Regions from separate parts of the Homo sapiens genome. Here regions 2 and 3 are each reported to be linked to region 1. The links are microRNA targets in miRTarBase. Many come from high-throughput screens and were not tested one by one. Region 1 holds a microRNA gene; each other region holds the end of a gene's coding sequence. Distances are between the middles of the regions.
Evidence for each region. The annotated mature microRNA hsa-miR-3671 reads AUCAAAUAAGGACUAGUCUGCA and lies in region 1 at 2,633-2,654, shown strand. An mRNA with a match to its seed (bases 2 to 7 or 8) in the 3' UTR can be bound and repressed. Matches are read on the target gene's strand: a 7mer-m8 pairs with bases 2 to 8, a 7mer-A1 pairs with bases 2 to 7 and ends in A, and an 8mer does both.

Region 2: the mRNA of GOLGA6L4 is a reported target of hsa-miR-3671. Seed matches in the 3' UTR shown: 7mer-A1 at 3,524-3,530, 7mer-m8 at 2,406-2,412, 7mer-A1 at 2,206-2,212 and 7mer-A1 at 1,345-1,351.
Region 3: the mRNA of TNFRSF9 is a reported target of hsa-miR-3671. The part of its 3' UTR that is shown has no 7-base or 8-base seed match.

What each region holds. Positions count from the first base shown.
Region 1 is chr1:65,055,730-65,060,415 of GRCh38, reverse strand. It overlaps MIR3671 (microRNA 3671), which reads left to right and starts at 2,574; the gene lies at 2,574-2,661. It overlaps MIR101-1 (microRNA 101-1), which reads left to right and starts at 1,908; the gene lies at 1,908-1,982. It also overlaps a transcript of JAK1 not described here.
Region 2 is chr15:84,242,196-84,246,195 of GRCh38, reverse strand. GOLGA6L4 (golgin A6 family like 4) reads right to left here. Exons shown (of 9, transcript NM_001267536.3): 8 at 3,947-4,000; 9 at 838-3,736. The coding sequence ends at 3,604. Among named protein-coding and RNA genes, the nearest start is that of GOLGA6L4, 8.4 kb to the right of the region's middle.
Region 3 is chr1:7,917,076-7,921,075 of GRCh38, forward strand. TNFRSF9 (TNF receptor superfamily member 9) reads right to left here. Exons shown (of 8, transcript NM_001561.6): 8 at 1-3,848. The coding sequence ends at 3,760. Among named protein-coding and RNA genes, the nearest start is that of TNFRSF9, 22 kb to the right of the region's middle.

The DNA.
Region 1 (4,686 bases):
CTAATAACTACAAATATGTCAGGATTATTTATTTGTCTCCATACTTACCCAACCTTCAGTGTTTCAGGGTAAGTATTCAGTTTTCCAAAGCTGACAGAATTGTGGTCAAGAAATATTAGTTGATAATCTTATCCTTTTTCGTGGAACAGCTATCTAAAATTTTACTCTAAAATAATCACAGTATCTTTGTTCACGTAGCAGATGTTTATAATTCGGGTAAAAATGTGCAACTATTTCCAAGAACCTTAGGTTATGGGATCCAACTGTGATTTTTTTTTTTTCTTTAATCTTCGTTGCCCTCTCGTGTTTCAACTCTGTATTACAGTTGGCTAAGACCTAGATGATGACCTCCTTAATTTTTAGATATTTTTGCATTTTAGGCAATGTTGTTTTTAATTTGTGTGTAGGTGGATTGTTTCATTGGATGTTGCTTTTCTGAAGATAAGGTCATTTTCATAGTACGTAAAGTTAATAGTTGAGTTAGATTCACTGTACTTTTATTTTCTGACTTCTGCTGATCTAAAGAATTGATTCATCTACCTGACTTATTTGAAGTACAGTGCTAATATCTAATATGCATATAATGAGTCTTTGAAATTGAGCAAATGCCTAATGAAAACATAATTATTTTTCAAATATCTGTCAAGTTCCACTCATATTGAAATAACTTGAAACCTTATGACATGGAAAAAACCCAAGTGAATCATGGTTTTAATAAGTTGATATTCTGATGCCTGAATTCCAATTTCAGAATCTTTTGTACTTTTTATTAAAAGGAAGAATCATCCCTAAAATGACTTCAGAGTACGTCTCAAAGGTACAGATAATTTAAAAGCAAGTGATGTGTATATGTTATTATTACTTTTTAAAAAGGTATTCTGAAGGTTGTCAGTATCACCATAGGTATAGAATTGACATAAACTATAGTGAAAAATATCAATGTTACTAATTTGAGTACATTCTTAGCACTCAGAGCAAGAGGAATGAAAGTCATTTTTGCTAATGTGCATTTTTCTTCTTAATTATAAAGCCCCACTAGCTTCTGCTTCATGATCTCAGTTACTGAGAAAACTAAAACAAAAAGTAAATGTTTTTAGAAATCCTTTTGTTTGTGTAAACTGAATATCCAGTTGATGGAGTTGGACAGCTAGGGTAGGGTAGAGAAAACAAAGCACTGTGTTCACTCATTTGACATGGTTCTGGACATGGGTTCGCCATAACTTAGCAATATATGATCTCTGGCAAATCACCTAAGTTTTTTTTTTTTTTTTCTGCCTATAAAATGGGGTAATAATATCTAATCTATTTCCAGAATCCTTTTTTGATGAATTAATGAATAATTCATTGCCAGCCCCATAGCGTCTTGTGAAAACCAAATGAGAAAACATATAGAGCAGTTTTGAATGTTTGGCAGATATGAAGTATTATTGTCATGTTTGGTTATGAGCACTTTGAAGACAGGAATCATGTCTTAGTTATCTTTATTTCCTGAACATCTAGAAGAGGGCTTTAGAACGTAGTAGTTCCTCGGTATATATATGAAAAATCAATGATTGAGGTCAGGGAGGCACAGTCAGTGAATCCATGCATGGAAGAGATAAGCTGTGAAATATGCTGGAAGCTTACTGCATATTTGATGTATTAGAGTGAAAACCTAATCATGCAGTTGTTCATCCTCATTAATATGGATAAGTCATGTGTTCATCTTTCATTCTAATTTAATTCAACTGGGCCTTTTAATATTTCAGCCTCACCACTTGCTGGGCTCTGATCCTTCTTTTTCTTCTGCCTCCTCACGTCTCCAACCAGAAGGTGATCTTTTAGTCCTTCACTTCATGGGGAGCCTTCAGAGAGAGTAATGCAGCCACCAGAAAGGATGCCGTTGACCGACACAGTGACTGACAGGCTGCCCTGGCTCAGTTATCACAGTGCTGATGCTGTCTATTCTAAAGGTACAGTACTGTGATAACTGAAGGATGGCAGCCATCTTACCTTCCATCAGAGGAGCCTCACCGTACCCAGGAAGAAAGAAGGTGAAAGAGGAATGTGAAACAGGTGGCTGGGACCCAGAAACCCTCTTACCCTGCACCTCTGTCATACTTCTCCCGGGGCATAGGGAGAGTTATTCTGCTTCTCTTTGCCTTGTTTTGTAACATGGGGTAGTTGTTGGTGCAGCCATGTTGTGCTGAGTGAACATATATTAAGATCTTTGGAACCTTTAGGAGACTGAAAATAGGTAAGTATGAATTAGTATTTCTGGAATGGTATTCAGAGAACTTCGTACCATTTTTATAAATGTGAAAGGTAACCTAATTAGAACAGCTTGGCACTTGTCAGTACACTACTAGATTTCAAAATCAGATTCTACTTACAGGGAGAAAAAAAAAGCCCAATATGTTGAACAGTATTGAAATTGTTGCATAAATAAAAGTCCATCATTGTAGACCAGCTTACTGAAGTGAAGAAAGAAAAAAAGTATATCTTTGTCTTGAAGGAGTAGATAGTGACATGTCATGTTTCTTTCAGGATATTTAGGATCTGGCCTAATTCAAAAGAATATTTACTGAATGCCTATGTTATTGCTGCTGCTGTCACATTTACATGAAAATAAAATGTAAATTATTTTATTTCTATCAAATAAGGACTAGTCTGCAGTGATATCTGGCACATATCGATTTCAGGAATACGAAGCTGTAAACACCAAGCCAGCATCACGTGCATGAAAGACTAGGAAATTTTTTTTTTGTTGCCCACACGGGAGTGCAGTGGCATGATCATAGCTTACTTCAACCTTGATCTCCCAGGCTCAAGCAATCCTCCCACCTCAACCTCCCGAGTCTGAGACTACAGGCTCAGGCCACCCACCTGCAAATTTTTAGTAGAGACAGGAGTTCACTATGTTGCCAAGGCTGGTCTTGACCTCCTGAGCTTAATTGATTCTCCCACCTCAGCCTCCCAAAGTGCTGGGATTACAGGCATGAGCCACTATACCCAGCCAGGATTAGGAAATTTAACAGCACACATCTTCAACCTCCATCTTACTCTAGAGAGTACTGCTGGGGGTGAAAGGTGGTTATTGGAGAACCCAGGATTCTGCCAATGCCAATCTCTGCCAATTATCCCTCTTCCCTGTAGACTCCTAAGGACACTGTACACATGTAACAATAGCAAATAAGAAACAAAGTGCATGACTTGATTATGTGTTAGATCTTAGATCACAGTACTGTGCAAGGAAGGCTCAGGTAATTTCATGGAACGTGTTTTAGGCTCAGAGCCTAATCGGGTATATTACCTCATCCTAGGCTCATGTCTGTATCTGGGAGCCTGTGGATGTCTGACTGGTGTAGGAACCCAAAGCAGTGACCCATATGCTTGAGCAAAGAGAACAGAGATGGCTGAGGTTAGGCTGTAATTTGAACCTACCTACCACAGAGAGAAGAGGGGCCAGGGAGAGAAAAACCATTTGTGACTTTTTTTTTTTTTTTTTTTTTTAAAGAAAGAGTCTCAGTCTGCGGTCAGGCTGGAGTGCAGTAGCTCAGTCTTGGTTCACTGCAACCTCTGCCTCCCGGGGTCAAGTGATCCTTATGCCTCAGCCTGCCGAGTAGCTGGGATTACAGGTGTGCACCACCATGCCCATGTAATTTTGTATTTTTGGTAGAGATGGTGTTTCACCATGTTGCCCAAACTGGTTTCAAACTCCTGTCCTCAAGTGATTCTCCTACCCTCAGCCTCCCAAAGTGCTGAGATTACAGGCATTGAGCCACTGCACCCGGCCTCGTGTGACTTTTTAACATACTGTGAACCTTACCTACTATCAGCCCTGCCAACTGCATGTCTTAGATATGGGTCAGGTGTATTATCAGGTCCTCCACTGGGACACAATGGGGAAGAAAGGGAACTGAAAGGGAGTAGGCCTCGTACAGAGAGGTTCTTTCTTATCCTTCATTGTGCCAGTCCTCAGACATTGATGGTCACTGTGTTCCTTTGCTGGTGATTGCAGTTCCCTTTAGTGTCTCTTCCCTCTGCTCTACCCAAAGAGGAACCATTCTTAGTAGTGATCCCTTGAGCCACACTTGGTTGGCCCAGAACTGTTATTTTTTCAGACACATTGACCACATTATAGCCCAGTACCTTCACATGTCCTCATAGATCCACAATTTCTCTAAGCTATATAAGCTACACTACGTTTTTGATTAATTAGAGAGAGGGGTCTCCCCAGTTATTATGCTACCACTCCTGAAATTCTTTGGAGTTTTCTTAAAAGGAATTTCTGACAGAAACTCTGGAAGAACTTTTAGGAAGGGAAAGTTAGGGATTGGTGAATCCTCAAGTAATTTGAAACACTCCTTATGTTTAGTGTTTGAGCAGGTGGAAAAAAGTGCTTCAAGAAGTTATGTGTTGTGCAATCATTGGCCTTGGTGAAGATTTCACCACCTTCCCTGATCTTCCTGTTTTCCCCGTTACTAGTTTTATAAAAATTCATTGGGTTTTATACTTACCCAACCTTGACCTCAAAATCTACAACCAGGCCTGTGGGGTGTTGAAGAACTGAGTGTTGGGTGTCATTTGCAGTCACCCTGCACTACGGACAGAGTCATGCTGGGTCCCCTTTCCTCTAAACAAGAAGGCTGAGGCTTAGTCTGCAGCAGGAGCTCCAGAAGCTTGCCTGGACCTGGAGGTCTTTGG
Region 2 (4,000 bases), not on the chromosome of region 1:
TAAGTTTCCCAGCCGCGAATAATTATAAGAACCTCTTCCTCATATGCCAGCTGCAACCTCCGCTAGGTACGATACAGAATGTTACACAGCTACAGTATGTACACGGGGGAAGGGGGGCCACCCCCAGCAGCCTGTGCCCTGGCCTGGTCTACAGTTAACTCCACTGTCCCGCCTCAGCTGCCTCTCTGAGTAAGAAGATGGGAGCCCCCCTGAGGGAAAAGTTGCTTTGGTGAGAGTAAGAAGGCCGTCAGACCTCCTCCAAACAAACCAACTCCACCAACCTCTGGCTCTTAAATAACAAACATCATCATCCAGAAATGTAAGGACTCAGCCTTGGTCAAGGTGGTAAAGGGTCTGTTTGTCTCCCTCCATTAGACAAGGGTCTTGTCTTGCTACCCTAATGGTAAAGGGCTGACTGGGGAGGGGTTGTAGGGACATGGTGGGGGTGAAGACTCCAGACCCACTTCTCCAGGCTTATGCTGACAGGGGCCTGCTTTTATTTATTTTTATTTTTATCCCATGACTTTTTTTAAATCCTGTAACTAATTTTTCATAACTTTTTAAAATAACTTTTCATAAAACTTTTTTTTTACTTTTTTTCCACAACTTTTTTTTGCCACTTTTCCACAGTATTTTTTTATCCTGTAACTTTTTCATCCCACAACTTTAATTTCTGTTAACTTTTTTAGTTTGTGTTCTTTTAATAAACACACTTACATAGTTACAATTTTGTAAGAATAAAAACCGATTACCTCATGCCAAGCATGCCGAGAATTTGCAGAGTCTCAATACCCAATACTATAGTTTTCAAGACACACAAAATTTTTAGGCAAAACAGCACCTTGAAACAATTTAATAATGTATTACATTACAGTAGCATCACAGAAGCAGTCAATAATGCCACTTTAGACAAAAATCAGTATTTCCATTATGCATTCTGTGTATAAGAATTCATAAATCGGTAAAAGTCATTCTAAGAAAACTTGGCAAATACAGCTTTGGACTGGAATTGGCATTTCTTTGTCTACTTTTCCTTCCCCTAGATTCTTTGTTTTAAACTACAGTATTCATATTTTAAAATGTTTTAAATTATTTTAAGACGTTAATATAGCAGTTACATTTTTGAATAGTTATTTGAAAGTGACTGTAAGATAAAGTTTTAGAGAATCTATTATGGATAGGGTTGATTTACATTTTCACATTTTCTAAAAATCAGCTTTGGTTTTAGAACTGATTGTTTTTCATTTTGGGAAAACCTACCAGGTTTAATCAATTACTTTAAAAATAATTATCATATTTTGCAGTCTTTAAATAGGTGTTTTGATTCTTTACTCCCTAGAGAAATTCAAATTTATTCAGTTGAAGTCACATTTTAAAATTCTATGTTCCTGCTGAACTCTAACCTTCTAATGTTGCCTTCTAAGCAAATTAAAGGCTGCCTTATACTGAATGAGGTAGAGAACAAATACTTGGCTGAATGAGGTACTGCAAAAGACTGCATGCACTTTGAAGAAAGACTTGAGTTATTGTCATAGGATTTCCATTCTCTTTAGCTTTTTCTTAAACATATGACAAAATACCTACACAAAGAGTCGTATTTGAATTAATATAGTATATTTATTTTTCAGACTGACATTCATCTTAAATATGCCAGTATGTGATTTAATCCACAGGTACCTGATGAACACATTATTGTCAGATTGGTTACAGTTGCTAAACGCTATCTGAAGGTCATTCCTATTCATTTATACGTGTCAGGGTAAAAGTGAAGCGATTTGAACTATAAAAATACCTTTGAAATAATTTATCAATGTATTAGATAAGCTCAGTTTCAGAATGATAAACAAAAACTGTTAGACCAAATAACGTGGCTAATTAACAGTGGTACGATTTCTAGCCCGAGGGTTTAAAATGGAGTTAAAGTAAGTGTCTTTAAACTGAACTCAAAGAATGCAAAAGCGGCAAGTTCAGACAAGGCAAGAACAGGACCTTTAGTCCATTTTAAGCCATAAATATTACACAAAATATGCCTCTAACTGAAACTGAGAGGTATAAAAACATATTTCACTCTTCGTAAAGAACTTTGTGAGGAAATATAACTCTGTGATTGTATAGACACTTTCCTCATGACACTTTGACAGTCACAAACAGTAGATTGCGCTGCAGTTTGTAAACATTTTACGTTGCATAAACTGCTCCTTGATTTTCAAATGTAGTATAATACTGTCTACTAAAACTCCTTTTTGTTTCAACTAAGTACTCTCACATATATTAGTTTATAATAATGTTTGTTATTATTTTTAAAGTGTTCTCCATTCAAGGAAAAGAAGTAAATTCCTATGTCAGATGGTTGAAGACTAGCTATTAGCCAGAGAGGTCTAGATGGTAAAATCCATCTTCTAGCCTCAAATAAGCTCCATGAACACAGAGGAATGCCAGGTGTCACACAGCTTTCCTTCACTCGAATTCATTCTTGACTAGAGCCTGTATATGCCTGTTCCAGGGGCATTTAAACTCTTAAAGGATTTCTTCTGATCTTTACTAAATACATTAAGGAGAACGCCAACCAGTGCCCTTTTGTGTACTGGGACATGTAGTCATGTGATTAAAACAGGGAACATGAACGCTGACTTTAAAATGTATTGTAGATATAAATGCTCTCAGCTAGAAAAGGTTTTCCACATCCACAGTCATGATGGGAGCCTTTCATTCCTCAGAAATAATCCCTTTTCAGGTCATCAAAAAAGAGTACAACTGCCACAGCTCATGAGGCAGTATCTTCATGAGCCCAGAGCACATACAAATCCTAAGGGAACTACCGTAGTACAGCGCTCATTCTTGGCACCGGAACAAATGAAACATATTCTATCCTGCACACACCTGCCAAAGCAGGCCACTTTCCTCTTCTGGGAGATTTAAAAACCTCCCCAAAATGTTATTACTCCCATCCCCAATACACAGAAAAAGGGGGAAAGGCTGTTTCCAGTGCTCCACCTTTAAACAACTGTAAATGTCAGTACTCACAGTGGCATATTACAAAGTAATAGACCGCGCACTTGAGGGCAAACTGCATATTGAGCTAATGAAGAGCTCACTGTGATTAGGATTCGATCAAACATAACAGCAGAACATAAGGAAATTTTATCTGAATTCCGTAATGAATATACAGGCTGTACTAACATTCAAAAAGCATGGCAGCCTATCCCAAACCAGCAAGAACAGTTGTGTGCATACAGTGGGTCTTTGTGTGTTTGAACTCCCACCACATAAGGGCAAACTCGATATGCATGCTAACGTCCTATAATTATCAAATTAAAAAAATGCTAAAAGATGCCAGAGTGAACATGAGAGAAACACCCACTCTCATTTAACTTTTTACAAATAAATTTAAATTATAAATTAGAAACACAAATAAATTTAAACTATAAATTAGAAACACAAATAAATTTAAACTATAAATTAGAAACACAAATAAATTTAAACTATAAATTAGAAACACAAATAAACATAAGTGGCTCTAACATTCAAATGAAGTAAATGAATTGTGTAGGATATTAACCCCTTAAATGTTTTGTTTTTTTTTTTCAATTCCTTGACCCGCTCTTAGATGATGGTGATGTTTAGCTCCCTGTTCTCCGCAGCCCGAAAAGAATGGCATGCAGCCTCTCCTGCTCCTCCTGCCGCCTCTCCTGTACCAACAGCTTCTCCACTCAAGCCTGGGTGCTCCTGGGGAGTCCTGCATTAGAGGAAGCAGCTGCTGGATCTGCTGTGCAGTGGGGTTGTCATGGGGGAGAACCCTCCCTGTCCTCTCCCGGTGCAGCCTCCATGCTATCAGTGAGGCTCAGCCCACTAAGATCTTCAGAGAGAGGGAGGGGGGTGGGAATCTGGGCACAGTGCGAGCCTCCCCTGCTCCTGCCTGCCCACCCCGCCTGAGGGCTCTACTCACCACCCTGCTTGTCCGCACATCCAAGCTCCTTGTGGGACTGGGGCTCCAGCTACT
Region 3 (4,000 bases), 57 Mb from region 1:
CATGCCACCATGCCTGACTAATTTTTGTATTTTTTAGTAGAGATGGGGTTTCACCATGTTGGCCAGGCTGTCTCAAAACTCCTGACCTCAGGTGATCCATCCGCGTCGGCCTCCCAAAGTGCTGGGATTACAGGCGTGAGCCACCGTGCCTGACCTAGCTAAGACACTTCTGAAGTAGAAAAAGAAGGTGGAGGGAGATGTCCTACCGGATATCGAGAGCTGTTACAAAGCTATTGTAATAAACACAGTGTGATACTGGCACAGGATAGACAAATTGACAATGGAACAGAACAGGGAGCCCAGAAGCAGACCCATGGCCCTATGGAAACTTGATGGATGGTAGGTGAGATTGCAGACCCGCAGGAGAAAGACGACGTATTGAATACATGGCGCAGGGACCAGTGGTTACCTACATGCAAGACATGGAATTGGATCACTACCTCCCAACAGGCACAAAAGCCAGTTCCTGATACATTAGACTTCAAGATGAAAGACAAAACTTAAAACTTTTGGAATAAAATGTGGGCAAACCTCTTTATAGTATTGGGCAGAAAAGGATTTCTTTAGCCAGGCAAGAAAAAATGTTAACCATATGAGAAAACAGTTATAAATTTAACCAAATCAAATGAAGAACTTTTTGCTTATTACCAGAAAGACAAAGAAAGACACCATTAATTAGAGAAAAACAGGAGGGGCGCGGTGGCTCATGTCTGCAATTCCAGCACTTTGGAAGGCTGAGGTGGGAGGATCACTTGAGCTCAGGAGTTCAAGACCAGCCTGGGCAACATAATGAAACCTCAGAAACCTCACCTCTGCTAAAAATAAAAATAAAAAAGAATTTTATAAAAAATTTTAAAAAGGGAAAAATAAATTACAAAGGATATATATATATATATATATAGATATAGATAGATAGATAGATAGATAGGCAGAATTTCACTCTTGTCACCCAGTCTGGAGTGCAATGGCACAATCTTGGCTCGCTGCAACCTCTGCCTCCTGGGTTCAAGCGATTCTTCTGCCACAGCCTCTGGAGCAGCTGGGGTTACAGGCACCCGCCACCATACCCAGCTAAGTTTTGTACATGTTTAGTAGAGATGGGGTTTCACTGTGTTGGCCAGGCTGATCTTGAACTCTTGACCTCAGATGATCCACCCACCTCAGCCCCGCAAAGTGCTGGGATTACAGGTGTGAGCTACCGTGCCTGGCCACAAAGAAGATATTTTTTAACACATATAACTGACCAAAGATTATTATCTAGAATACATAAAGACCTTTTAGGAATCAGGACAAACAACCACATTTGGGTTTGTTTGTTTCTGAGAAAAGGTTTTTCTCTGTTGCCCAGGCTGAAGTGTAGTGATGCGGTCCCAGCTCACTGCAACCTCTGCCTCCCAGGCTCAAAGCGAACCTACTGAGTAGCTGGGACTTCAGGTGCACACCACCACACCCGGCTAATTTTTGTATTTTTTGTAAAGACAGGGTTTCGCCATGTTGCCAAGGCTGGTCTCGAACTCCTGGGCTCAAGCGATCTGCCCACCTTGGCCTCCCAAAGAGCTGGGACTACAGGCATGAGCCACTGCACCCGGCCCCAAGTTTTTTTGCAAATGGGCAAAAAAGCATGAGCAAGCATTTTATTTAAAAAAATAAACACAAATGGTATATAAATATTTGACAAGGTGCTCATCAGTAACCAAGCAAATGCAAACTAAGACCACAGTGAGATCTCATTCTATACCCACTGGCTTGGCAAAATTAAGGGCACCTGATAGTACCAGAGGGTAGCAAGGATGTGGATCAATGGGATACTTACATGACACTTATATGACTGACGGGAGTACATTAGAACAGCCACTTTGAAAAGCAATTTGGTACTGCAGTAGACTATTGTTCAGAAATATCTTCTCCTCACCCCTATTTACAGAATATACTTTTCTGCCCTATTGATGCCTGGCTTGGCTGCAGGATTTGCTCTAAAGGTTATAGTAGAACCAACTAAATAGGAGCAGAAGTGACAGATACCCATTTGCCATGCGATGGCCAATGTTCCAAATAGAAGCTGCTCCCTCCACCTAAATCCCAGAGTAAAATAACATGGGACAGAGGCACGCAAGCTTGCAATAGGCATGTCATACAAAAGTGTAAGAAATGGCCAGGCATGGTGGCTCATGCCTGTAATCCCAGCACTTTGGGAGGCAGAGGTGGGCAGATCACCTGAGGTCAGGAGTTTGAGACCAGCCTGGACAACATGGTGAAACCCCGTCTCTACTAAAAATATAAAAATTAGCCAGGCGTGGTGGCACATACCTGTAGTCCCAGCTACTTAGGAGGCTGAGGCAGGGAGATCACTTGAAACTGGGAGGCGGTGATCCAAGATTGTACCACTGTACTCCAGCCTGGGAGACAGAGTGAGACACTGTCTCAAAAAAAAATAAAATGAATAAAATTTAAAAAGCTATCCTTAGATCATAAGCCAAACAATGGCAGGCATGCCAGGTTTGCACCTGTAATCCCAGCTACTTGGGAGACTGAGGCGGGTGGATCACTTGAGCCCAGGAGTTTAAGGCTAAAGTGTGCTATGATTGTGCCTGTGAATAGCCACTCCATTCCAGCCTGGGCAACAGAGCAAGACTGTCTCAAGCAAACCAACAGACAAACAAAGGCAAATGGTGCACCAGGTTTGGCCATGGGAGTTTGGCGGCCCCCACTCTAGTGCTGTGGTAGGACAATGAGCTCACAGGTGTTAATTTTCTCACTGTACTTCATACCTATCATATGCAGTTCATTTATTGGCTTTGGTATAAAATATTATGTTAAAAGTTAAGAATTTTTAGAATGTAACCTGGCTTAAAAGGGAGCAGGACAAAGGCAGAAGGTGTGAGGATGGAGAAGACCATAGGATATACAGACACTTGAACTCTTTCCAAAACTTCCTCCAGGCCTGAGGTTTTTTGTCCTTGACCCTAAACTCAGGCACTCTGCTCATACTCCCCCCTGACGGTGGAGCATGTCGTGTTACATGACAGAACCCACGGAAACTTTAGTCGGGTACTTACTGCACCTCGTGGCTTATTGTCATATGTCATATTAGCACCAAAAAACAAACCTGCATTGATTTTGATTATAATTATAGTTGGACCACTGGACTATGTAATTGAATTTAAACTATAATTTTCTTTGGATTTCAAAAAAACTAGCTCAAACCTGTTAAGTGGTATCTAGAAAATGCTTTTTTTTTTTTTTTTTTATCACCAGCTCTGTCCTCATCTGTCTGTTCTGTTAAAAGTGGTGCATTATTTTGGCCGGGCCTGGCAGTTCATGTCTGTAATCCCAGCACTTTGGGAGGCCAAAGTGAACCTAGGAGTTTGAGACCAGCCTGTACAACATGGTGAAATGCCATCTTTACCAAACAAAAAACAAAAAAGTTAGTCAGGTGTGGTGGCCCTTCCTTGTAGTTCCAGCTACTCAGGAGACTGAGGCAGGAGGATCACTTGAGCTCCCAGAGGTCAAGGCTGCAGAGAGCCATGGTGGTGCCACTGCACTCCAGCCTGGGTGACAGAGTGAGACCCTGTCAAAAAAAAAAAAAAAGTGGTGCATTTTTAAAGGCCAACTCATTGGCATTTAGAAAAGAACGTGTGTTGGGGGAATCCTGGGTATTATGTAGGATGGTGTTCTTGCTTTTGAAAGCTGTGATAGCGGATGACTCATATTTCCTTGCTTCTTTTCAAGAAAGTCCCAACAGCCCTATTGACTTCCATTTCACAGTTCACATCCTCCTTCTTCTTCTTCTGGAAATCGGCAGCTACAGCCATCTTCCTCTTGAGTAGTTTGTACTGGTCTCATAAATGCTAAAAAAAAAATTTTAAGATACGTATATTTTGTTGTCTATTTGAATCATTTAACACTTATTTTCCATAAATTATAGCTGCAGAACATCTCTAAGCAGCAAACATTCTCCCCTTTAATTTTAACAAACTCAGCCAGGCGTGGTGGCTCATGC